Homo sapiens: one gene and its partners. The protein of the gene in region 1 purifies or fractionates together with the protein of each later gene. This does not show direct contact. Each region holds a gene or a part of one and is shown in the gene's direction. Other genes may lie near its edges.

Region 1 (9,744 bases):
GTTACTTTTCTAAAGGTGACTCAGTTAATCAGAAATAGGAAACCGAGCATGGATCTTTGGACTCACAGGGATATAGTAAGAAGAGGGCATGCATTTGCTTAACTAGTAATTATTGAGTGGTTATTATATATTAGGAACTGGAAAAAGAAAGATAAATATTACAAGACTCCTGCCCTGGAGGAAGTCAGTTTATTCATTTGCGAAATCCTTATCATGGTCTCATTATATAAAGGAACAGTGTTAGAAACAAAGCTAGCAGAAGGGAGAGAGCAAGACTGACCGGACACTGCCACCCCAAAGCTCATAGTTTAGTGGGAGATACAAACAGATGAACCTGAAGGTAGAGTGATGTGCTGCATAACAACATTTTGGTCAACAACAGGCCACAGATACAGTCATGGTCCCATAAGATTATAATGGAGCTGCCTTTCCAAGTGTACCTTTTTTTTAAAAAAAAATCTTTTTCTCTAAATTTCTTTTTTAGAGACAGCGTTTTACTTTGTCACCCAGGCTGGAGTGCTGTGGCATGATTATAACTCACTGCAGCCTCCAGCTTGGAAATCCTGGCCTCAAGCATCCTCTTACCTCAGTCACTTAAGTAGCTAAGACTACAAGTGTGTGCCACTGTGCCTAATTTTTGAAAAAATAGAGATAGGGGGTCTCGCTACATTGCCCAGGCTGGTCTCGAACTACTGGCCTCAAGTGATCCTCTCACCTTGGCCTCCCAAAGCCTTGGGATTATAGGCTTGAGCCGTTGCACCTGGCCCCATTTTTAAATCTTTTATACCATATTTTTACTGTAATTTTTCTATGTTTAGATAAACAAATACCATTGTGTTACAGTATTCGGTACATAATATGCCATACAGATTTATAGCCTAAGAGCAATAAGTCATACCATATAGCTCAGGGGTGTAGTAGGCGATACCATCTAGATTTCTGTAAGTACTTTTTTTTTTGAGAGATGGAGTCTCACTTCATCGCCTAGGCTGGAGTGCAGTGGTGAGACCTTGGCTCACTGCAACCTCTGCCTCCCAGGTTCAAGTGATCCTGCCACCTCAGCCTCTCAAATAGCTGGGATTACAAGCATACACCACCATGCCCAGCTAATTTTTGTATTTTTGGTAAAGATGGGGTTTCACCATTTTGGCCAGGCTGGTCTTGAATTCCTGACCCAAGTGATCTCCCTGCCTCTGCCTCCCAAAGTGCTGGGATTACAGGTGTGAATCACTACACCCAGCCTTTAGATTTGTGTAAGTACATTCTATGAGGTTCACACAATGATGAAATTGCTTAAGAATGCATTTCACAGAACATGTGCCCCTGTTGTTAAGTGATGCTTGACTGTACATTACAGTGTATTAAGGGCTTTCCAGTGTGCTGTGGGAGTGACCTATTGCAGACCTTGAAGAGCCTGGGAATACATCCCAGAGGAGGTGACATGTAAGCGGAGATCTGCAGTAGGTATTATTAATCAGGGGAAAGGAAGTGTACAAGCCAGAGAGAAATGTTGAAAGACCTAGAGGTGAAAGAAAATATTCCATATCTGTAAGTAGAGTGAAGTCTGAGGGAAGTATTCAGAGATGAGAAGATTCATGTAGTTGGGGATAGGTTTGAGTGAGGCTAGATTTGAAAACCAATTGGAAAACCAGTTGGAAGGCTGATGCAGTAATCCAGATAAGAGATGATGACTTAACAAGACATGGCTGTGGGGATGCTATGGTACTTCGCGCTAATCAGAATGGGGTTGAGTGTGGGTAGCAGCCATTCCCTGTTTCTCCAGTTGTAATTTGTCTATCTTGATCTTTAGTGTGATTGCATCAGGCGCCCTTTGAGGCCAGGGCAATACAGCACCATCTCTGAAGTAGCTTTGCAATCTGGAAGGGGTACAGTGTCCCTTCCCTCAAAGGCTGCTGAGCGGGTGGTGGGCCGATGGCTCCTGGTCTGCAGTGGAACAGTGGCTGGAGCAGTTATTCTTGGTGGAGTAACTAGGTAAGTAATTTGCTCGTAGTGAGTCAGGTATTTGGATCATCAGTAGAAGCACAGGTTGACTGAGGAGAAAGGATTTTTTTTTTTTTTTTTTTTGAGACAGAGTCTTGCTCTGTTGGCCAGGCTGGAGTGCAGTGGTGTGATCTCGGCTGACTGCAACCTCCGTCTCCTGAGTTCAAGCGATTCTCCTGCCTCAGCCTCCCAAGTAGCTGGGACTAGGCGCGTGCCACCATATCTGGCTAATTTTTTGTATTTTTAGTAGAGACAGGGTTTCACCATGTTGGCCAGGCTGATCCAAACTCCTCACCTCAGGTGATCTGCCCACCTCGGCCTCCCAAAGTGCCAGGATTACAGGCATGAGCCACCATGCCCAGCTGGAGAAAGGAATTTTACAGAGCATCTAGTCTAGCTCCCTCATTGTATAGATGGAGAAACCGAGGCCTTAAAGAAGGAACATGTCTGATGGCTTGCCCTGCCATAGAACAGTTGAGTGTTTTATTAGTAGGAGCCTTCTATAAAGACTGGTTTATGTCTTAACTGGTACCTGTGCATTGTTTATGTATCTTTTCTCTTTCAATCAGAGTCCAAGTTTGTCTCAAAACTTTTTTTACAGTTTGTTTGAATTAAACCCAAAGAAGTTCTGTACATCACAATTGGTTCATGTTTCTTAGGTTTGTTTAAATCTATCAAGAGACTATAGATTTAGACACTCCTCCCTTTCCCCCTCTTCTAGTTGCTGAGGAAACTCTAGTCATTTGTCCTATGGTTATGCACAGTTTAGATTTTGCTGACTGCATAACTGTGTGATATTTAACATGTTCCTTTGTCCCGTCTATTTCCTGTGAATGAGTAGTTGGTTGATCAGATTCAAATTAGGGATGAGGGAGCAAAATACTTCAGTAGGTGAATAGAACATTCGTGAATATCTGGTGTCTATTATAGATGTTAACAGCCATTAATTACCATTGCCTAGATCCATTATTTCATTAGCGTAGCAAAATTATAATATTTTATTAGCTCAACTCTAAAAAGCTTTCCCTCATCATCAGTTTGGATATCCCAAGGTATAGTTTGTATAGGAAAGGCAGGATACATACTTGATTCTTCTTTCCCTTTATTTACCAATTTTCAAAATAATAAATTGGTCCCCCAAATCCTCCAAAGGCAACAAATAAAGGATTTGAATTTTTAAGGCTCATTATGAGATCATAGGTTCAAACACACTCGATAATGTTTCGGTCCGTTGTGATGATGGTGTTAGTGATTTGCTCAGATTGTCCCATCTTTAGTCAGTGGGCATCTCCTGAAATTGGCTCTAGTGACTTTTTGGCAGGGCCCTAATTACCTTTGATAGTTTCCTTACTTTCTAGTATGACAAGATGTTCCGAGCTCATCTTGTGCATTTCTTGCCTCAGGCCTAAAATCAGGCTTTTACTCTAGGAATCCTAATTCCTTTTGGTAAAAAAGTTTCTAGTTTTAATCAAATGTGTCTTCCTCAAATTCTCTTCACATTCCACGTCCCTTATTTCAAAATACCTTATGTGTTATATAGGTTGTTATGAGCAAGTGAAACAAATTTGAATTTTATTGTCTTTAAATTCACCCAAGAATCTAAACCTGTATACATGTAACAGGTCTCTTTTCCCTGGGTAAGGAATGTTGGTTATGCATTTAGAACACATTTCTTTGGCTGTAGGGGTTGATTTTACCTGTTGAGGAATGCTAGTGAAAGGAAGAATTGGGAAAAAAAAAAGAATTGGGGAGAGTTGAATAAAAGGATTGAGAGAATATAAGGGTAAATAAATTTGTACCTGATGGCAGCTGTTTCTGACAAAATTCCAAGCAGTAACAGAGAAATGTCTCAAAAGAGGAAACAAGGAAACAATGTGTTTACCTTTAACAAGGTTAAGTTCAGATCCACTTGTTGCTATAAACCTTTTGTGAGTAATCCAGCCTCACGCATACACCCCAAAATTTCTTTCCTATCCTAAGGTTGACAGAGTCTGGCCTCTCGATGGTAGATTGGCATTTAATAAAGGAGATGAAGCCACCTACAAGCCAAGAGGAATGGGAAGCAGAATTCCAAAGATACCAGCAATTTCCAGAATTTAAAATGTAAGTATTAGAGAAAATTAGGTAAACATCCCAGTAGGCCCATTTGATCTTTTGGACTTAAACCCTTCAGAATGGTTAGATTATTTCATGAACTTCGGTTCAGTTATGTTTAGTCAGCTTGTCTTCTAAGCCCCCAAATCCAAAGTCATCCTGAGGTCGTTGATGAGGAAGAGGGCAGACCTACCAAGTTGCAGGACTGAGAAAGAAAGGTTTTGCATTCCGTAAGAAAATAAAAATCAGAAGGATGTTTCCTCCTCCTCCTTTTTTGACTTTCCATTTCACCCAGCTTGAATCATGATATGACACTGACAGAATTCAAGTTCATCTGGTACATGGAGTACTCACACCGAATGTGGGGTCGCCTTGTAGGCCTTGTGTACATCCTGCCTGCTGCCTACTTTTGGAGAAAGGGCTGGCTCAGCCGTGGCATGAAAGGACGTGTTCTTGCCCTCTGTGGCCTCGTCTGCTTCCAGGTAAGATTTATTCAAGGTTGAGAAACCAGAAATGCTCCCAGGAGCTTCCTAGTTGGCATTGTTTTTTTTTTTTTTTTTTTGAGACGGAGTCTCGCTGTGTCGCCCAGGCTGGAGTGCAGTGGCGCGTGATCTCGGCTCACTGCAAGCTCCGCCTCCCAGGTTCATACCATTCTCCTGCCTCAGCCTCTCGGTAGCTGGGACTGCAGGCACCTGCCACTATGCCTGGCTAATTTTTTGTATTTTTAGTAGAGACGGGGTTTCACCATGTTAGCCAGGATGGTCTCGATCTCCTGACCTCGTGATCTGCCTGCCTTGGCCTCCCAAAGTGCTGGGATTACAGGTGTGAGCCACTGCGCCCGGCCCCTAGTTGGCATTCTTTTTAAGGAAATAATCTCTGAGGCACTTTAATAGAATAGGTAAGAGCATGCATTTTAGTGTCACAGGCCTAGCTTCAAGCCCCAGCTCTGACACTTAGGGTAAATTACCTAACCTCTGAAAGCTATGATTTCTTTACCTGTAAATGGGGATAATAACAGTGCCACCATGTACAGTCGTGTAAATATTAAATGAGATAATCCATATTTAAAGTACTTAGCTTAGTGCCTGGAATCAGTAAAGCACTCAGTAGTATATTTTCATGTGCTGCAAGATGTAGTTTGTTTCCCATCATGGGTGTCTCCCTAGGTTCTTGTCTCTCCTCTTTTTCTAACTTGTCTGCTATAGGAAAGAGGGATCCCTGTGCTAGAATGCCACAGAAGCATACAGGAAAATTCCAAAAGAGAGAAACACTTTGTGGGATGAAGGATTGTAGAATACCCATGTAGCTGAGAGATATTCAGATATAAATGGCAATTAAAATCACGTAAGTTGAGCGCCTCTTAAGGAAAGACTCCCACAGTTAACAGGTTAGTACTGCTAGAATGATGAAAAAAAAAAAGTTGGGTGAAACTGAGCAACAAATTAAAAGAGAAGACACATAGGAGTATTTGGGTCAAGGTTTAGAGATCCTAAAGGAGATTATCAGGGCATCAAAGAAACATCAAAATTTAATCAGGAGGAAGCTAATTGGTTAATTTAACTCAGAAGTGGTAAGAAAATGAGTCAGTTAGAAGGGATTAAGGCCGGGTGCAGTGGCTCACACCTGTAATCCCAACACTTTCGGAAGCCAAGGTGGGGGATCAGGAGTTCCAGACCAGCCTGGCCAACATGGTAAAACCCTGTCTCTACCTAAAATACCAAAATTAGCTGGGCATGCTGGCGTGGGCCTGTAGTCCCAGCTATTTCGGAGGCTGAGGCAGAAGAATTGATTGAACCGGGGAGGCGGAGGTTGCAGCGAGCTGAGAGGTTGCACCACTGCACTCCAGCCTGGGCAACAGAGCAAGACTCTGGCTCAAAAAAAATAAATAAAGAAAGAAGGGATTAAGGAGGGAGATGAGAGAGAAGAAATAGAGGCAGCAGAAACAATAATCAAAGTCTAATAGTAACCAGAGAAAGGCATGTAGAACAAAATGAAAGTTAACATTTTAGAATTAGAAAAACAAGCCAACACTGAAAACACTATTAGGGAGGCAGAAATTAAAGATGTCAGATAAGGTATGGGAGAAGAAAGTGGGCTAGTGAATCAACTGTGTACGTCTTCATCTTTCAATGTCTCTTGCAGATGAAATCAAGGTAATTAGAATATCCAGGGTAATCTTGAAAGGGGAGAGAAATGCCCAAAAAGATTTCCTGAAGAGTATATATTTAGAAGTGGCAGAGTCCACCTCTTTGACCTGATTCTACTGGCAAGTGGGAGTGAAAGGGCTGTCTTATTTCATATGATTGGAACTAACAATTGTTTGGTTAATTGAAAAAGCCAGTTAAAGCAGAGAATCATAGAATATGATACATAACATAAACTTTTAAACTTAAATCTGTACGTTCATTACCAACTTTTACAAAATCAAGGCCTTTTCTTTGACTATGCGTCCCCAGATTGGCATTCAACTGCAGGTTTCTTATATCCCCATAAACTGTGGTTTTGCTTAAAGCGGAGTGGGAACTTAGATATTTGCAAAGCGATCTGCATGCAAAACCTTATTGATTTTTATGATTTTCCCCTGAAACTTTTATAATTGTCTTATTCCAACCTAACTTGACAGTAGATGTTTTTAAGCATTTACCTTTATTAAGTTTCTCCAAAACATTCAATCTAGTTTTATGAGATATATCCATGGACCTTTTTTTTTTTTTAAAGCTCATCAGCTACTGTTAGTGTTAGTGTATTTTATGCATGGCCCAAGACAATTCTTCCAGTGTGGCCCAGGGAAGCCAAAAGATCAGACACTTCTGATCTAAATAGTAGTTAAGTATTAATGGTGATATGTGAAGAACTGTGGATAAATCATGAATCTTGGGACACTGCGTATTGGGGAGGGTATGGAAAGAGGAGGGGTGGGGTAGAGAGTACTCCTGATAGCTCATTTCCTCAGTAAAGTTGAACAGATCAGGCCGGGTGTGGTGGCTTACGCCTGTAATACCAGCACTTTGGTAGGCTGAGGTGGGCGGATCACGAGGTCAAGAGATTGACACCATCTGGCCAACATGGTGAAACCCCATCTCTACTAAAAATACAAAAATTAGCCAGGCGTGGTGATGCGCAACTGTAGTCCCAGCCACTTGGGAGGCTGAGGCAGGAGAATCACTTGAACCTGGGAGGCGGAGATTGCAGTGAGCCAAGATCCCGCCACTGCACTCCAGCCTGGTGACAGAGTGAGACTCTGTCTCAAAAAAACAACAAAAAAAAGAAAGTTGAACAGATCATTTTAACCTTGTTTTGTTTGCTTCATCTCTTGGGGGTTCTAGGGTCTGTTGGGATGGTATATGGTGAAAAGTGGACTAGAAGAAAAATCAGACTCCCATGACATCCCTCGGGTCAGTCAGTACCGCCTTGCTGCCCACCTGGGATCAGCCCTGGTTCTTTATTGTGCCAGCTTGTGGACCTCACTGTCACTGCTACTCCCTCCGCACAAGGTAAGAGTTGTGTGCAAATATCTGTGTTCAAGACCCCGCTTTTGGTTCTTTTGGATATATATCTAGAAGTAGAATTGCTGGATCATATAGGAGTTGAATATTTTGCCAACATTTTCTATTGGCAAAGGTGAAACAAATTGAAAAATAGAGTGGGAGGGAGTACCAACAACAAGAAATATCCCAGTCGCTTTACCTCTGACTCCTAGAAGGGATGGTGGATGGCAAAGTGAGAAAGATCAGAACAGAGGTGTTTCTGAACTTCTGGTGTGGACAAGAGCTATATTGTTCGTTAAATGGGGACCTGCCAGTTAAGTCTAATAGTAAACCTTAGTGATTTTGTCTGAAGTATTTTTCTGTCTGCTGATTAAAGCAAAGTACTAGTTTTTCATTTTATGCTTTGATTTAAAAGCAAGGTATAACATTTTTTTGAGGCCTTCATTAATAATAGAGGTTCCAAGACACCACACCCTTATAGGACATTTTTTTCCCTAGAATTTTTTTTTAAATGAGTCTTGGCCAGGCGCGGTGGCTCACGCCTGTAATCCCAGCACTTTGGGAGGCAGAGGCAGGCAGATCACCTGAGGTTGGGAGTTTGAGACCAGCCTGACCAACCTGGAGAAACCCCATCTCTACTAAAAATATAAAATTAGCCAGCCATGGTGGCACATGCCTGTAATCCCAGCTACTCGAGAGGCTGAGGCAGGAGAATTGCTTGAATCCGGGAGGCAGAGGTTGCAGTGAGCTGAGATGGCACCATTGCAGTCTAGCCTGGGCAACAAGAGCGAAATTCCATCTCCAAAAAAAAAAAAAGAGTCTTATATTAGGTATTGAAATCATGGGTTGACCTGAGTAAGCTGTTCCTGGAGAAAAGTTTGAGATGACAGCAGGACTCTTAAGTCGAATCATCCATTAGGTACTTGGAGCTAGTAGCTAGATCCCAGTAAGGACTGGACGTGTTGTCTTGGCAGTCATTCCCACAGAGAAGCCAAATTGGGTTGAAATATTGATACAGTAGACAACCACTGAATAATTCCACATCTGAAAAATAAGGAATTATTTGAAAGTCTCCTGACTTTCAAAGCCAAACTTCATTTATTTACTTATGTATTTATTTATTTATTTGAGATGGAGTCTTGCTCTGTTGCCCAGGCTGGAGTGCAGTGGTGTGACCTTGGCTCACTGCAACCTCCACCTCCCGGGTTCAAGCAATTCTTCAGCCTCAGCCTCCCGAGTAGCTGGGACTACAGGCGCACACCACCATGCTCGGCTAATTTTCTGTATTTTTAGTAGAGACAGGGTTTCACCATGTTGGCCAGGCTGCTCTTAAACTCCTGACCTCAGGTGATCCACCCGCCTCGGCCTCCCAAAGTTCTGGGATTACAGGTGTGAGCCACCGTGCCCATCAAAGCCAAACTTCTAAAATGAATTCATTTTAATTCAGACTTCTAAAATGAATTCATCTTAATGAATTCATTTTGCCTGCATCTATAGCTGCTGCTTCCTGACAATCTATTCCTTCTTTTCAGTCCCTGTAATTATCTTCCTCACCCAACCCAATACATACACACTCACACATTTACCCACACTTACACATAAACCCACACACTCTTGCTACTGAAATTGTACTCTTAAAGGTTACTGATGACTTTATCAATTGTTTTTCTCTGTTAGTTTAGATTCACCTAATTACAAAAAGGATTTGAGATGCTACCCAATGAGCCATATAGTGCTATGCTGTCCAACACAGTAGCTACTAGCTACATATGGCTATTTAAATTTTAACTAATTAAGGCTGGGCACGGTGGCTCACACCTGTAATCCCAGCACTTTGGGAGGCTGAGGCGGGTGGATCATTTGAGGTCAGGAGTTTGAGACCAGCCTGGCCAACATAGTGAAACCCCCATCTCTACTAAAAGTTAAAAAATTAGCTGGGCAATAGTGGCGCGCACCTGTAATCCCAGCTACTTGGGAGGCTGAGGCAGGAGAATCGCTTGAGCCTGGGAGGTGGAGGTTGCAGTGAGCCAAGATTGTGCCACTGCACTCCAGTCTGGGCGACAAAGTGAGAAAAAAAATTTTTTTAATTAAATAAAATTTATTTACATAAGCTTTTTGTTTATTTAAACTTTATATTTAAATAAAATTAATTTTTTATTTA
Region 2 (5,869 bases), about 92 Mb from region 1:
TAAGTGTCAGGCCCTGTGCTAGACACTGAGGATACAGTGGTAACAGTATTTGCCTTCAGAGAGCTCAGTCTTCACAGTAAAGGCAGACACTAAATAAGAAGTCACAGCAGAACAGAGGTTGCTAAACTGTGGCCTGGAGCTAAGAATGGGTTCTGCATTTTTAAAGGGATATAAGAAAAAGGAGAGTGATAGCGTGTGACCCACAGAGTGCAGAATACTTGCTGTGTGGCCCTTCACCGAAAAAATTTGCCTATTCTTGTGACAGTGTTATGAGGAAAATAACAAAATCCATTCTCTGTTATACACTCATTCTGCAGAAACACTCGATGTATGTGATCCTATATTTTCTGGTCACCAGCACTCTTCCCAGTCCAGTCTCTTACCATTACCATTTCTCACGTCCTTGAACCTCAGCCACCTTGATCTACTTCCAGATCTACAGATTCGTCACTCTTTCTCGCGGCCAGGGAGTGGCATGTGCTGCAGCCTGAAAAGCCACTATTTCTTCCCTTGCTCCCTTGATTCTTCATCTGACTGCCTCCTGTGTATCCTTCCTTACTCAGCTGGGGGAATCCTTTCTTCCAGAAAACACTCCTTCCTTCAGTCTGAGTGAGGCAGCCTTCTGCAGCATCCTGTCTTCCATTTAGCTTAGCTCTTACAGCCTTGTATGAGGAATTGGCTTTTTATTTGTCTGTGTGCTCCTCGAGGCTAGGATGGGACCATATCTTATTCACTTTTGTGTCCCCATTGCCTGGTACATACCTCCTTCGTGAATGTTGAATGAATGAATGAAATGCCATATGTATTCAGAACTGGAAGTTCAGAAGAGGGACAAATAACATTTTATTGGGTGTATGAAAATGTGGGTCCATGGTTTTAAGAGTCAGGGAAAAGTTCATCACTATTTAAAGTGTTCCTTAAGTGTTACTTTTCAAGGGCAGAAACTGGGCAGAATGCCAGAGAGACACAACTAGAACTTTTTGAGCCAACAGAGACCTTTGTGTAAGTTGTTAGTTGGATCCATCAGCCTCGCTATCCTAAGCATTCTTCTCTTATTTTACTTTCTAAGCACAGCTGTGTTAGGACTAACCCATTCACAGCCTGGTCACCAATGTTCTATCAGCATCACAGAATACTGTCTCATGGTGTCTAGCTTGATGAACTTGGTTAGGATACTCTCTCTGTTACTCAGCTTTGTCATCTGTAACATGGGGACTAATACAAGGACTAAAACCTTCTATTAGCCATTATCCTTCTTGCCATCTACCCCATGTTAAAGCCAGGCTGATTTGTTCTTGGATCTTAAGTGTGACAAAGCCTGCGGGAAGGAACCACATTCTGAAGGTTTGTGGGCTGTGTGAGATCCAGAGAACCCAAGGGGGTTTTTTTGCTCTTGACAAACGAATGTTAGGTATGACCTATGATGATACAACTTCTGCAAAATTGAGGACCAGCCTATTTCTTCATTAGAAATGCAGGAAACCTGGCCGGGCGCAGGGGCTGACGCCTGTAATCTCAGCACTTTGGGAGGCAGAGGTGGGCGGATCACAAGGTCAGGAGATTGAGACCATCCTGGCTAACTCGGTGAAACCCCGTCTCTACTAAAAATACAAAAAATTAGCTGGGCGTGGTGGTGGGCGCCTGTAGTCCCAGCTACTATGGAGGCTGAGGCAGGAGAATGGCATGAACCTGGGAGGCGGAGCTTGCAGTGAGCCGAGATTGCGCCACTGCACTCCAGCCTGGGCAAAAGAGCAAGACTCCTTCTCAAAAAAAAAAAAAAAAAAAAAAAGAAATGCAGGAAACCTATTTAAAAGTAACAGAAACAGCTGGGTGCATTGGCTCATGCTTGTAATCCCAGCATTTTGGGAGACCGAAGCGAGTGGATTGCTTGAGCCCAGGAGTTCAAGACAAGCCTGAGCAACATAGCAAGACCCCATCTCTACAAAAATGAAAAAATTAGCCAGGCCTGGTGGCATGTGCCTGTTGTCCTAGCTACTCAGGAAATTGAGGCAGGAGGATTGCTTGAGCCCAGGAGTTTTAGGCTGCGGTGAGCTATGATCGTGCCACTGCACAAAACCAAGAATTTAGAAAAAGGAATCCACATAATTGGAAATTGAGTATTAAGTTTTTGCTTCCTAGGAAGGTAGTCTAAATCCTTATACAAAAACTTAGCTATGCAGTGCCAAGGTTGGATTGCTTGTGAATGGGTTTGCATGCTCTGTAACCTATCAGTTATTCTGAATCAAGACTTGAATATTTAAACATACTTGGAAAAGAAAAAGATCAAAAAACAAAATAAACATATTTGGCTATTTAGTAATATAATTAAGAACATGAGTAAACCATAGTATTCGAGGTCCAAGTATTAGTTGCCAGCCTAAAAACTAAATATGGCCAGGCGCAGTGGCTCATGCCTGTAATCCCAGCACTTTGGGAGGCCGAGGCGGGTGGATCACCTGAGGTCAGGAGTTCCAGACCAGCCTGGCCAACATGGCAAAACCCCGTCTCTACTAAAAAAGTACAAAAATTAGCTGGGCGTGGTGGCGGGCACCTGTAATCCCAGCTACTCGGGAGGCTGAGGCAGGAGAATGACTTGAACCCAGGAGGAGGTTGCAGTGAGCTGAGATCACGCCACTGCACTCCAGCCTGGGCAACAGAACAAGACTCCATCTCCAAAAAAAAAAAAAACCTCTAAATATATTGTGTTAATTTATAGAAAAATTGTAATTTAAATTACATATTCATAGTCTTGCCTACTTGCATGAGCATGTTTTTATTGCTTCTAACCTGGATTGAAATCTATGACTTTTTATAACAGTCATTGAGTCTGTTTCAAAGGAATCTTGTGGTAAGTATTTTTGCATGATGTACTCAAGGTATCAAGTTTAACAATTGACTTTTTTTCATTGGAAAGCATATGTGATTAACTAGCATGGATTGCTTCTTGACCTGCTTGTTTTGTGTTTGTCTTTTTCTTCTAATATAATAACCAGGGATTAATGAAAATCAAGTTCCATCCTCAGACAAGAGGTAAAGTTCACACATTCTTCCCATGTCTGTTCAGAAAAGAAACCTATTCAGATATAAGTTAAGCTAATTTAGTAATCCTAGAATTGTCCTCTGAGAGATTTAGATGGATGGGCCACTTCACAGTAGCAGCCAACTCACGGGAGCACCTGGGCAACGCTAGTGGACTTTTTTGTAGTGAGTGTGTTGATCATAGAAAATGTAGATATAAGGAAATAAACTTTGAGGATAGAGAATTAACATTATTTTGAGATATTATATATAGGTTGTGAAGAGTGGTGGTTGTCACACTTTATGGTCTCTGGACCCCTTAATGTCTGATTCATGTAGCAGAAGCCAGCTAGATTTTCATCTGTCTCTATTCATTTTGTTGTGATGTCATGGATCATGTGGCCTCTGGAAAACTCTACTGTATACTCGAGAATGAGAATATAACAGGCAAAATAACATTATCATGAAAATAGTTTTGACCTCATGAACCCCATGAAAGGTTCCCCAGACCAAAATTTTAGAATCACTGGTATAGGGTAACACTTTATTGTGTAAATTCAGTTCTCTGTACCCCACTTAAATATGTATTATTATCTCTTGACATTATTTTCCCAAAAAATGCTGTTTGATTTCTTACTTGTTCTGTACTTTGTTTTTCAGGTAAAGAAGGAAAATTCAGCCAGTTGATTTTGTTTTTAGCTTACTGCTGCCTTTGTCCGAAGAAACTGTTCCTCCATTATTTGAATTACTGAAGACAGCAAGATATTTGTAAATTATCTTAAAATAAACAACTTAAAATAAAATCATTGTTTTTCTTATATATAAGAACAATAGATATAGTTTTTGAAATGAGATGATACTAAAACATTTAAAAATATTAATATGCTACTATTAAAATTTTTTAGTAGAAGACAATTTAAGAGGCTCTTTTGATTTGGTAGTGCTCCACTGACCTTAAAATGTCTAGCCTCTATGGGGACAACGTAGAGGGAAAGGGCTGCAGCCACAGCCTCAGCCCAGTTCTGTGCCTTATTACAGCCTTAAAGAACAGTCAACAAGACCAGGCACGGTGGCTCATGCCTGCAGTCCTAACACTTTGGGAGACTGAGACTCAAGGTGGATCACTGGAGGTCAGGAATTTGAGACTAGCCTGGCCAACATGGTGAAACCCTGTTTCTACTAAAAACAAAACAAAATACAAAAATGGTGCACACTTGTAATCCCAGCTACTCAGGAGGCTGAGGCAGGAGAATCGGTTAAACCTGGGAGGCAGAGGTTGCAGTGAGCTGAGATCGCGCCACTGTACTCCAGCCTGGGCAACAGAGTAAGACTCTGTTCCAAAAAAAAAAAAAAAATGCCACAGGAAGCATTTGCTTGGAATTCTGGATACAAAATTGCAAGCATATACTTACTCTAAATTATTTAAAACATCTTTTCTAAACACTGAGAAAAGTACGATACTCACATTTAGATCACAATTAAGATTAGATGCCTGCGTTGACTCCACACTCTGAGTTGGCCATGCCAAAATTTCAGGCTTTTCCCTATTTGTTTAAAATTGATAACTTAGTTTTTTGGGTTTTTTTTAATTACAAAAGTAATATATAAATTCCAAAATACATAAAATTATAAACAATATAAAACCCATTCTTAACAAGCTCCTCTTTTAAAAACAAATGAATGCATGTATTTAGAATGGATTCTTTAAATATTTACAGCTATATTCGTGGTAATGAATAAAAAGGTTCAGTGAACTGACCAGAGCTTCAAAGTCATTTTCTAACTCCCCTCAAAGTTTTCAGGAGCCACTTCTGAAGGGGTTGGTGGCTGAGACTAGGAGAAAGAAACAGCTCACAACTGAGGAATCAGATGGAGGTGTAGTGTGAACCAGTACAAGATACCTTTTGGGAATGTTAGCAACGAACCACGTGCCTCTGGAGGCTGTGTGTATGTGTGTGTGTGTGTGTGCACGCCACTATACCTGGCTAATTTAAAAAAAAATTTTTTTTTTAGAGATGGGGTCTTGCTATTTTGCCCAGTCTGGTCTTGAACTCCTGGGCTCAAGTGATCCTCCTTAGCCCTGCAAAGTGCTGGAATTACAGGTGTGAGCCACCATGCCCATCCTGTTTTGTATTTTGCTTCTAAGCTTGGCTTGACCCACCTCCAGTTTCTAGGAGAGCAGAACACATTTGTGAGGGTGATTTGAGTGTCCTAGACATCATGGAAGGAGGAAAAGCAGGAATTTGAAATCAGTCAACATAAGTAAGAATAATCTGTGTCTGAACTGGAATACTAGCTCAGCCCTTAACAGCTGTGACCTTGGGCAAGTTACTTAATCTTTCAGTTTTATGATCTATAAGATGGAGATTAAAAGATTGTTAGGATTAAATGAGCTAATATTTTAAAATATCGAGAATCTGACAGGGAGTAAGTGCTATATTCTTGGTTAAATGTCTGCTCTATGTAAAATTAATCATCAGCTCCCTGTAGCCTTTAGTGGTGCTCTTCTGTGTACTGGCACTCTGACTCTCTGAGGATACAATAACAAAACGCCTCCTTGCAGGAGCTTACAGTCTGGAGGGAACACAAGCAAATGACAGAATGTGGTAAGTTACAATTGGTGAGCCACAAGAGGGACAGTGACTCAATTTGGGGACAGATGAAGGGGACTGAGAAGGCCGTCCAGCTTGGAGGAAGGGAGGTCTAAACAGTCCTCAAGGACCAGTGACCAACAGTAGAAATTAAACTACTAGAGCTAACTGGTGGGGAGGGAAGGCATTTCAGGCCAAGGAAGCAGAAAAAGCAAAGACCAAAATCTGTTCAAATGCACATTCTGAAAACTGCTAATACA
Region 3 (6,683 bases), on another chromosome or scaffold:
ATGTAGCTGTAATTATTTTCAGATTGAAAGGGTTTTAGATTTGAAAACCCATAGAGAAACTTTCTACTTTGGCCTTTTTTCTTTGAGTGCTGCAAGAAATAAAATATAGCCCAACATTTATTTTTTATGATTCATTGAAACTCTAGGGGTAGAAATGGAAAGCTTTCTGTAACTACTAGTGTCCTTAGGTCAAGGCCCTCAGAAAGCGTGTGGTTTTACATTTGAGAAACCAATCCTCTTTTGTTTTACTGTATTTTAAAATAGCTTCTTACTCTGTTTTGTTGTTTATACATTGTATGTTTGGCTTCTTGAGGTCTCTGGCTCCTCAGTTTTTCCTTGGCTCATAACATAGTATCCTCATTGATCCAAGCATGACCCTGTTTTGCTTATTTTTATTTTACTTATACTAATAATATAATGAATATCCACAAATTCAGTGCCCAATGAGGCAGGAGAATCGCTCGAACCCAGTAGGCAGAGGCTGTGGTGAGCCAAGATCACGCTACTGCATTCCAGCCTGGGCAACAGTGCGAGATTCTGTCTCAAAAAAAAAAAAAAAAAAAAAAATATATATATATATATATATATATATATATATATATATATATATATCTCCAATAAGTTACATCTTATAGGCTCCTCCCAACCTGTGTCCCTGCCTCCCCTGCAGATTTAACCACTATGCTGAATTTCATGCTCTTGCATTTTATATTTGTGTATGTATCTTTAGTTTGTCTTAGGAACTTTTTAGACAAGGGTGTCACACTGTCATAAGATGTATAGTCTTCTAGTACTTGTTCTTTTTATTCAGTGTCAGAACTAAGATTCATCTACATTATTGTGTGTACCTATAGTCCATTCATTGTTGTTGTTGTATAATAGTGCATTGTATGAATGCACCACAGTTTCCCGTCTCCTATGTGAACAAGTGATAATGAAAACATTCTTTATTAACATTTTTGAGAAGCAGCAAATGTGTTGCTTTGAGAGATATTTATAGCTTTAAATGTTTATATTATGAAGAATAGCTGAAAATCAATGCACTAAATGTCCCAACTTAAAAAAAAAAAAGCACAAAAGAATAAACATCAGAAAAGAAGGAAGGAAGGAGATGAAGATCAGAAATCAATAAAATAAATAACAGAAAGAGTAGAGGATCAACAAAGTGAAATCTTGGTTCTTTGAAAATAGAAACAAAATAGACAGTTGTCTGGTGAGATTAATCAAAACAAAAAGAGAAAGAGAAAAGTACAAATAATATGAATGAAAAAGAGGTATAACTGTAGGTTCAGCAGTGATTAAAAATAATACCAACATTATACCAACAGATTTGAAAACAAGCAAAATAGACAAATTTCTGGAAAAAATATTAGCAAAGCTGAAAAATTAGAAAGTCAGAATAGGCCAGATAGTCATTAAGGAAGCTGAAGCAGCATTTAATCTTCCTCCTACAAAGAAAACACAAGAAACAGGTAGTTTTACAGGTAAGTTTCTCCCAACTGTCAAGAAACAGATTATTCCAATTTCAAACAAACTCTCCTGGAAGATAAAAAAGAGAATACTCCCCATCATCCACCAAGGTTTGAATAACTTTAATTCCAAGATCAGACTTGGGCCTTTAACATACATTCATAGTAATTACAGATACTTAGAGATCAGTGGCAAAACAGAAAGACCAAGAGGTGGTATAGCAGGGCTTTGGGATCAAGAAAGATCTGCCTTCAACATCTCAGTTGCACCTCAGGTTTCCTTACCTGTACAATTATAATACTGGACTTACAGAGTTTTCCTAAGGGTTAAAATGCATAACGTCTGGCCCAGCAAGTGAGCTGTAAGTCATAGCCATTATCATTACCATCATCAGTGTCGTCATCATCATTTAAAATCACTCAAAGGCCCACTACATAAACAATAGCCATCATGGGATTTTTTTTCCTACCTTTTTTCTATATTCGTAATTTTTAAAATTTGTTTTGCATATTTTAAATATAAGCTTATATCCTGACTTTTTTTAACCTTACAGTCTATCACATGTCAACTATATTAATCAATTTTTTTATTGTTTTTGAGGCAGGGTCTCACTCTCTTGCCCAGGCTGGAGTGCAATGGCACAGTCATAGCTCACTACAGCCTTGAACTTCTGGGCTCGAGCAACCCTCCTGCCTCAGCATCCTGAGTAGCTGGAGCCACAGGCATACACCAACACACCTGTCTTATTTTTTATTTTTATAGATACAAAAATTTGGGTCTCACCAGGTTGCCCAGGCTGGTCTCAAACTCCTGGCCTCAAGAAATCCTCCTGGTTCAGCCTCACAAAGCTCCGAGATTACAGGTGTGAGCCACTGCGCCCAGCCTCAAATATTTTTTTTAAACTAATTACATATCAAAATATTAGCAGTTTTTCTGGTAGGTATTCTGGACAATTTTTCTTTATACTTTAATGAGTGTGCGTTTCTCTTAAAGAATAAGCTTTAATATATATACACCCATAATACCTTCAAATACATTTTTAAGCACTTAAAGACTAACAGTGGTTATCTCTCAGCGGGATTATAAATGTTTTGGTTTTTTTTTTTTTTTTGTACATTTTAGTATTTTTTGAAATTTTTTTAATAAGCGTGTATTACATACAGTAAACAAAAGCACATTAATGTAGGCAGATTATCAATGTTATGCATTTCACTGATTGCATATCTCTTTTTTTATCAATGGTGAACATTGCAAATGATTGATACGTTTTTCTTAGGAAGTGGCATTGCCACAAATGGTTTTTCCAACACCAGCAGGGCCTGAGAGTGTCATCACCATACACTCTTGCCGGCAATAAGAGATTTCACCTTTTAATGATATGAGAGGGAAAAGTTGGGTGTTGGGTTCTCCAGTGCATTTCTTTCATTATGAGTGACATTTTTCTGAAAGGAACGTGATCTCGTTTTCTAGCCGCATGAAGCATTTCTCCAACAAGACCCACTGTACCAGTCCTGGGATCTCCACACCTGTGCCTTCTCCCTGCTCTTTCTAGGTCCTGATTCTCACCTCTGCCTGTGTAATAACCCTGTCATTTCTCCCTTATCCCAGTTCCATGTCTGTGACAAGCTTGGAGGCCGAGTTGCAAGCTAAGATCCAAGAGAGCCATCCTGAATTGCGACGCGTGTACTTCAATAAGGGATTGTAAAGCAGGGAGGAAACCTCTGCAGCTCATTCTGCCACTGCAAAGCTGGTGTAGCCATGCTGGTGAGAAAAATCCTGTTCAACCTGGGTTCTCCCAGTTACGGAAACCTTTTAAAGATCCACATTAGCCTTTTAGAATAAAGCTGCTACTTTAACAGAGCACCTGGCGTGGGCCAAGTGCCTGATACTCCCTTACACTGAATCATGTTATGATTTATAGAAATACCTTTCCTGTAGCTTTTATAGTCATTGTTTTTCAAAGACGATATACCAGCCCTCACCCAGGTTTTAAAAAAGCACTGGTAGGCATAGAATAGGTGCTCAGTATATGGTCAGTAAATGTTCTATTGATTATCAATCAGTGAAAAAAGAAATCTGTTTAAAATACTGAATTTTCATCTCACTCCCATTGCAAATCAAGGAGATCTCAGCAGTGAACTGGGAAAATACAAAAGCTCTGGGCTAATCTATAAAAACTTACCCTGAAATATTAAGGGCAGTTTGCTTCTAGTTTGGGGATTGCGCTAGCCCAATGAAGGTGATGAAGCTTTTGGATTTGGAGGGTAAAAGCTCCTTCACACCCCTTCCAAAAGTCAGTCACAGACCACTGCAACATGCCTTCCCTGCTGGATCATTATATACATTCAGATTGTGAGTGGATTGCCTTGGTTGACTTTTAATTTATTGTTTTTTGTTCTTATAAAGATGATAATCTTACCTTGCAGTTATTGACTTTATATTCAATTATTTACATCAAATAATGAAATAACTGAAATGTACAAATGTCAAATTTTGGAAGTATATTCAATACCAATGCTGTATGAGTGGGCTGAATCCAGTTCATTGTTTTTTTTTTGGTAAGAAGTGAGACTACAGTTCCAGCTACCTACATGTCTTTTCTTGTCATCCTTATAGATCTCTTTGGCTTTCAGAAAGATACAGTGATAATGTGTGTATGAATCAGTCACAATGAATTTTACTTGAATATTGTATGTTGCATTCCACTTCATTTGAAAATAATGAAACCATGTACCACTGTTTACATCATCTGTAGTGATTTCATAGATAATATATTTAATATGACAGATTATGTTTCAACTCTGTAGATGTTTAACGTCATAGACAGTTGGCCCTCTGTATCCGTGAGCTCTATATCTGTGAATTCAACCAAGTTTGGATGGAAAATTTTTTTTTTTTTTTTTTTTTTGAGACGGAGTCTCGCTCTGTCACCCAGGCTGGAGTGCAGTGGCGTAGTCTCGGCTCACTGCAAGCTCCGCCTCCCGGGTTCACGCCGTTCTCCTGCCTCAGCCTCTCTGAGAAGCTGGGACTACAGGCGCCCGCCACCACGCCCGGCTAATTTTTTTGTATTTTTAGTAGAGACGGGGTTTCACTGTGGTCTCGATCTCCTGACCTCGTGATCCGCCCGCCTTGGCCTCCCAAGGTGCTGGGATTACAAGCGTGAGCCACCGCACCCGGCCTGAAAATATTTTCTAAAAAGATAAAAAATATACATAACGATGAAAAATAATACAAATTTAAAAACCAATACAGTATAACAACTATTTACATAGTGCTTACATTGTATTAGGTGTTATAAGCAATCTAGAGATGATTTAGCAAGTATACAGGAGGATGTGCCTAGGTTATATGCAAATACTGTGCCATTTTATATCAGGAACTTGAGCATCTGCAGATATTGGTATCGGAGGGCGGTCCTGGAACCAAGCATCCACGGATACTGAGGGGTGACATTTCATGAAGTGTAGATCATTGTATTCAGAGATTGTAAATGAAAAAAATATAGAAACTATTTAGTTTTGGTAGATTTTTTTTCTGACAATGTGACCAGACTGAATTTCCTCATAAAGAAAAAATGGCGTGCCTTGTGTCTGTGTTTCTCTTTTCTCTGAAAGGATTAATAGATCTGAAGCTTTGGGCCACTCAGAGCCTTCCTTGATGCTGCCAGAGTCTTCTTATTTAGATTTTCTGTCTTAAACCATTGGAAGCAAAACGGTTTTCCCATGACATTCTGGCCTTGGACAGATTCTGTTGTCCTCGACGCGTCTCTTTATAAAGTGGTAAAAGCCTGAAATTCAGGGCAGCTCTCCATGAGGTGCTGAAGGGCTCTTTTCATAAGAAGCTAAGGCACTGCTGCCTGCCCCAGGTGTCCCGCTCCTCTCAGAGTCCTCCCCCTACCAGGTAGTGTGTAGCTCCATTTCAGAATGTTAACCTCCAGTGAAGAGCTAATGACTGGTTAGAAGATTGACAAACTAACCAAAATTTTACACACTCCGGTTATGTGTGTGAAAGGTTATAAAAGGAATGGCCGGGTGCGGTGGCTCACCCCTGTAATCCCAGCACTTTGGGAGGCCGAGGCGGGTGGATCACCTGAGGTCAGGAGTTTGAGACCAGCCTGGCCAACATGGAGAAACCCCGCCTCTACTAAAAATACAAAAAATTAGCCAGGCATGGAGGCACATGCCTATAATCCCAGCTACTCGGGAGGCTGAGGTAGGAGAATCGCTTGAATCCGGGAGCTGGAGGTTGCAGTGAGCCAAGATCGCACCATTGCACTCCAGCCTGGGCAACAAGAGCGAAACTCCATCTCAAAAAAAAAAAAAAGAGATTATAAAAGGGATGATGAACATGGAGCTGCATCTTTTTAAACGTTGTTTTTTGATGCTTCAGACTCTTAATGCTTTTATATAAAGCTATCAACTGTATGTTGATCACAGTTTATAAGAAAGAACAAATCAAGATTGGCAATCCTTGCCGATCTTTTAGAAATACCTTTTCTGGAGAAAAAAAAATCCACATGAAGTGCAATAAGCTTATAAAGCTAAGTAGTTATTAATATTTCTATTAACATGATACAAAGGATGATGATTGTAAGTGTTTACTGACTGGCAGCTTTTATTTCAGTATTAGCACAGCGTCTTGCCAGTGTTGGAGGCCATGTATTATTTCAGTTCAACTGGATGAAATGTTAAATAAACTCAGAATGAAAATAAATTCTCTCTTTTATTTGTACATAAAGGATAAAGCAGTTTGTGTGTTACAACTGATGGTACTTTTCATTCAAAGTTAATATCTACAGTACCATCAGCAACTCCTAATGAAAAGATATTTTTGTATTATGCCTTTAACAAGAAATATATTTCTATTTTGGGCTACCAGTCTCCCACCTTTTTGAACCTCATATACATAAAGGCACACCCACCCACCCCCCAAACTCCTATGACAATGTGATTCCAGGAATATTAATGATGGGCGTGGGGGATGGATTTCAGCTTGAAACTTGGATGGCCAACACCTCTGCACATGACGGTGATGGAAACATGCTTCTATATTATTGATCTGATTCTAACCTGGCACTGGCATTTACTAACAGAGAAAGTCTAAATTAACCTAAGTTTGGGGAGTGCCTTAATAAAAGACTTGATACAGAGCTGAGCATTTTAACTTCCTTGGCCATGTTTCTGCATTTGTTTTGCTACAGTAACTCTGTTGTC
Region 4 (4,107 bases), on another chromosome or scaffold:
GGCATTGATACAAAATACGCTGTGTTCAAGCTATGGAGCCTGCCACTGTAGTTACTAGAGTTACGGTTCAAAGCTATTTCTGAGAGAAAGCCACTTCATCCTCAAAACCCAAGAGGCCCACTTAAAGTGATGCGAATTCTCATTTCAGGTTTTTAAATTATACTAAAAGATTCTAGTAAGAAAATTTTAATATGTATGTATTGGTGTTCTTTTTACATTTCATTTAATGAAATGTCTACTGTCAATACGATAAAGCAGAACCCAGTGGAGTAAGAATACACGAAACTGCCAGGCACAGTGGGTCATGCCTGTAAACCCAGCATTCTGGGAGGCCGAGGCGGGTGGATCACCTGAGGTCGGGAGTTCAAGACCAGCCTGACCAACATGGAGAAACCCTGTCTCTACTAAAAATACAAAATTAGCTGCGGTGGTGGTGCGTGCCTGTAATCCCAGCTACTCAGGAGGCTGAGGCAGGAGAATCGCTTGAACCCGGGAGGCGGAGGTTGTGGTGAGCCAAGATTGCGCCATTGCACTCCAGCCTGGGCAACAACAGCGAAACTCTGTCTCAAAAAAAAAAAATATATATATATATATATATATATGAAGCTGATAGTTGAATTATGTTGATTCAGGGACAAGATAGCATTGCATAGTAACTTCCAGTAGGATCAAATATTTTGAGAGTGGTTAAAACGCCAAGGAATCCTGATTTTATGAAATTATGCCTTCTGATAGGTGCAACAAAATTGAACAGAAGAGTAACAGCTTAACTAAACCTCCATTGTGTGAAAGTTTTATGAAATGTTTTGACTTTTTTTTTTTTTTCCCTAGAGAACAGGGTTCTTGCTTTGTCGCCCAGGCTGGAGTACAGCCTTGAACTCCTGGGCTCAAGCGATCCTCCTGCCTCAGCCTCCCAGTTAGCTGACACAATTGGGATGTGCCACTACTTGCTCCTGTTTTTTCATAGACGGGTCCTGCTGTTGCTCAGGCTGGTCTCGGATTCCTGGCCTCAAGCAACTTTCCTGCCCCAGCTCCTAAAGCGGCCAGGGTTACAGGTAGCCGCCTTGTCTGTCCCGTTTCGACCATATTTTATTTTTGAGAAGGTCTTGCTCTGTCGCCAGACTGGAGTGCAGTGGCACGATGATAGCTCACTGCAGCCTCGATCTCCCAAGCTCAAGTGATCCTCCCACCTCAGCCTCTTGAATAACTGGGACTGCAAGTGTGGACCACCATGTCTGGCTAATGTTTTTTATTTTTAGCAGAAATGAGGTCTTGCTATGTTGCCAAGGCTAGTCTTGAACTCCTGAGCTCAAGCGAGCCTTCTGCCTTGGCCTTCCAAAGGGCTGGGATTAGAGGGCTGAGCCACCACACTTGGCCAACCATATTTTATTTTTTATATTTTTATTTTATTTGATCCTTGTTCTGAAACCATAAAGTGAGTTTAACATTTCTGGCTGGGCACAGTGGCTCATGCCTGTAATTCTAACACTTTAGGAGACCAAGGCAGGAGGATGCCTTGAGCCCAGGAGTTTGAGACCATCCTGGACAACATAATGAGAAAAGAAAATACAAAAATTAAGGGGTGTGGTGACACATGCCTGTAGTCTCAACTATTTGGGAGGCTGAGGCAGGAGGATTGCTTGAGCCCGAGAGGTTGAGGCTACAGTGAGCCATGTTTACGCCATTGCAGTCCAGCCTGGGCGACAGAGTGAAACCCTGTCTCAAAAAAAAAGTAACATTTCTATATGATTTTTGGGATCGACATGTCCATAATGTTAATGAAGCGCATAGCAGTCACTAGTAAATTAGGAGTTATACATTGCTTCTATAGCATCAGAAATTGTATATCAGGCCAGGTGCAAAAGCTCACTCCTGAAATCCAAGCACTTTGGGAGGCTGAGGTGGGCGGATTGCTTGAGGTCAGGAGTTCAAGAACAGCCTGGCCAACATGATGAAACCCCAGGTCTCTACTAAAAATACAAAAATTGGTCAGGCATGGTGGTGCATGCCTGTAATTCCAGCTACTCGGGAGGCTGAGGCAGGAGAATTGCTTGAACCCGGGAGGCAGAGGTTGCAGTGAGCCAAGATTGTGCCACTGCACTCCAGCCTGGGCGACAGAGCCAGACTGTCTGAGGAAGAAATTGTATATCAGGCTGGGCACAGTGGCTCATACCCGTAATCCCAGCACTTTGGGAGGCCCAGGCTGGGTATCACTTGAGCCCAGGAGTTGGAGACCAGCCTGGGCAACAAAGTGAGACCCCTCTCTCTACAAAAAATAAATTAGCCAGGCATGGTGGCACGTGCCTGTAATCTCAGCTACTTAGGAAGCTGAAGGAGGATCGTCTGAGCCCAGGAGTTTGAGGCTGCAATGAGCTACAATCACACCCCTGCACTCCGGCCTGGGCGACAGAGTGATAACCTGTCTAAAAAAATAAAAATAAATTGTATAATCATATTGCAATTTTCTTTGCATTACTGATGAGGAAAAATCTCAAAGTAATTGTAAAAAATCCTGGATATCACATAGTTGAGAAACAAAGTTATTTTAAACTTACAGGACTCTGTAGTTCACAGTTGAACACTGTGGCTTCCTGAAATATCAAAGAATAATGTACATTAATAAGCCAGCTACTATCGGCATCTTGTAAAAATTAAAAAATTAAACATAAATAAAAGTTCAAACTATGTGTTGAATCATTTGTCTTTTACAAGCCAGCCCTGACTTCACATTCTCAGAGGTGTTCATAGAAGTGCATGAGATGTTAACCTCACCACTGATAAGGTTTATGAATCTCCTGGTTATTAAGGTGTGACCTGACAAGTTTCCTAGAAAGCAGCTATTCCAGAGTTTTCATGTGTGTTTTTATAGACACTGAAGTGCAGTATGCAATAGTCACTTAATAAGTATTGCTACACTGAATGAAAGAGCCTTGGGGATGTGTCTCTTACACAAGATATAATTCCTACCTAATACTGTGAATAATAATTTGATGTTCAAATCAGCCAGCTTGCTTTGCAGAATCCAGTGTATTGCAAAGTTTGAAGATGGAAAATAATTCATGTGACAGGCCATATCATTATTCCAAGACCCATGATCTTAACACTAGAGGGCTATATTAGTCAAGGTTAAAACTGCTAAATCTCAAGGAAGCATTAACATCTGAAAATATGGTATACCCAACTTTTACTCATGGATAAGTTTGACGGTAAAATGTCATTGTACTTGATGTTAATAGGTTATTGGGAACTGTTACGTTAAGTGAAATCACAAATAATGAAACTATTTTTACCACAGCCTAGTTGATATAAATGAGTTAAGTTCCTACAACATATTTCTGGTCACGAAAATATAACCAAACTAATAAAGACCAAAACAATTCTAATATTAAGCATTAAATAAATATGAGCTATACATGCATTTAAGGAAGATTATGGTCGGTCGCGGTGGCTCACACTTGTAATCCCAGCACTTTGGGAGGCCCTGGCAGGTGGATCATGAAGTCAGTAGTTCGAGACCAGCCTGGCCAACACAGTGAAACCCCCATCTCTACTGAAAATACAAAAATTCACTTAGGCATGGTGACGGGCGTCTGTAATCCCAGCTACTCGGGAGGCTGGGGCAGGAGAATCGCTTGAACCCAGAAGGCAGAGGTTGCAGTGAGCCGAAATCGTGCCACTGCACTCCAGCCTGGGTGACAGAGCTAGACTTCGTCTCAAAAAATGAAAAAAAGACTTCCTCTCAAGCTTGGCGTTTGGTCGATGGGGACCCACAGAGGAAGCAAGTTGGCAGAGTGAGGTGGGTCTACGGAGAAACAGGAACAACTCCCAAGATCACATGGCTCCTGAGGTAGAGAAAGTGCCTCTACTGACGCTGGCCGTTTGTTCCAGATCCCAGGAGGACGCGTTATACCACAATTCTTTTGGGGGGATGCTGGTGAGATACTTATAAGAAATCCTCTTCTTTCTTTCCTTTTCTTTTTTCTTTTTTTTTAGACGCAGTCTCGCTTTGTCACTCAGGCTGGAGTGCAATGGCGCAATCTTGGCTCACTGCAACCTCCGCCTCCCAGGTTCAAGCGATTCTCCTGCCTCAGCCTCCCGAGTAGCTGG

The links.
Region 2: the proteins of COX15 (region 1) and ATP5F1C purify together in Homo sapiens (affinity purification with mass spectrometry; 2 studies listed by BioGRID and IntAct, with this or other methods). This does not show direct contact.
Region 3: the proteins of COX15 (region 1) and SFXN1 purify together in Homo sapiens (affinity purification with mass spectrometry; 2 studies listed by BioGRID and IntAct, with this or other methods). This does not show direct contact.
Region 4: the proteins of COX15 (region 1) and SLC25A3 purify together in Homo sapiens (affinity purification with mass spectrometry; 2 studies listed by BioGRID and IntAct, with this or other methods). This does not show direct contact.

What each region holds. Positions count from the first base shown.
Region 1 is NC_000010.11:99,721,801-99,731,544, reverse strand, and holds part of COX15 (heme A synthase COX15), read left to right. Parts: intron 1-1,810; coding exon 1,811-1,992; intron 1,993-3,981; coding exon 3,982-4,104; intron 4,105-4,390; coding exon 4,391-4,577; intron 4,578-7,421; coding exon 7,422-7,589; intron 7,590-9,744. UniProt on the Homo sapiens protein: Catalyzes the second reaction in the biosynthesis of heme A, a prosthetic group of mitochondrial cytochrome c oxidase (CcO). Heme A is synthesized from heme B by two sequential enzymatic reactions catalyzed by heme O synthase (HOS) and heme A synthase (HAS).
Region 2 is NC_000010.11:7,803,981-7,809,849, forward strand, and holds the end of ATP5F1C (ATP synthase F(1) complex subunit gamma, mitochondrial isoform L (liver) precursor), read left to right. Parts: intron 1-2,993; coding exon 2,994-3,000; 3' UTR 3,001-3,030; exon of another isoform or gene 3,031-3,036; intron 3,037-3,678; coding exon of another isoform or gene 3,679-3,682; 3' UTR 3,683-3,821; downstream 3,822-5,869.
Region 3 is NC_000005.10:175,523,560-175,530,242, forward strand, and holds the end of SFXN1 (sideroflexin-1), read left to right. Parts: intron 1-3,078; coding exon 3,079-3,175; 3' UTR 3,176-6,183; downstream 6,184-6,683. UniProt on the Homo sapiens protein: Amino acid transporter importing serine, an essential substrate of the mitochondrial branch of the one-carbon pathway, into mitochondria.
Region 4 is NC_000012.12:98,603,686-98,607,792, forward strand, and holds the end of SLC25A3 (solute carrier family 25 member 3 isoform b precursor), read left to right. Parts: 3' UTR 1-2,682; downstream 2,683-4,107. UniProt on the Homo sapiens protein: Inorganic ion transporter that transports phosphate or copper ions across the mitochondrial inner membrane into the matrix compartment. Mediates proton-coupled symport of phosphate ions necessary for mitochondrial oxidative phosphorylation of ADP to ATP.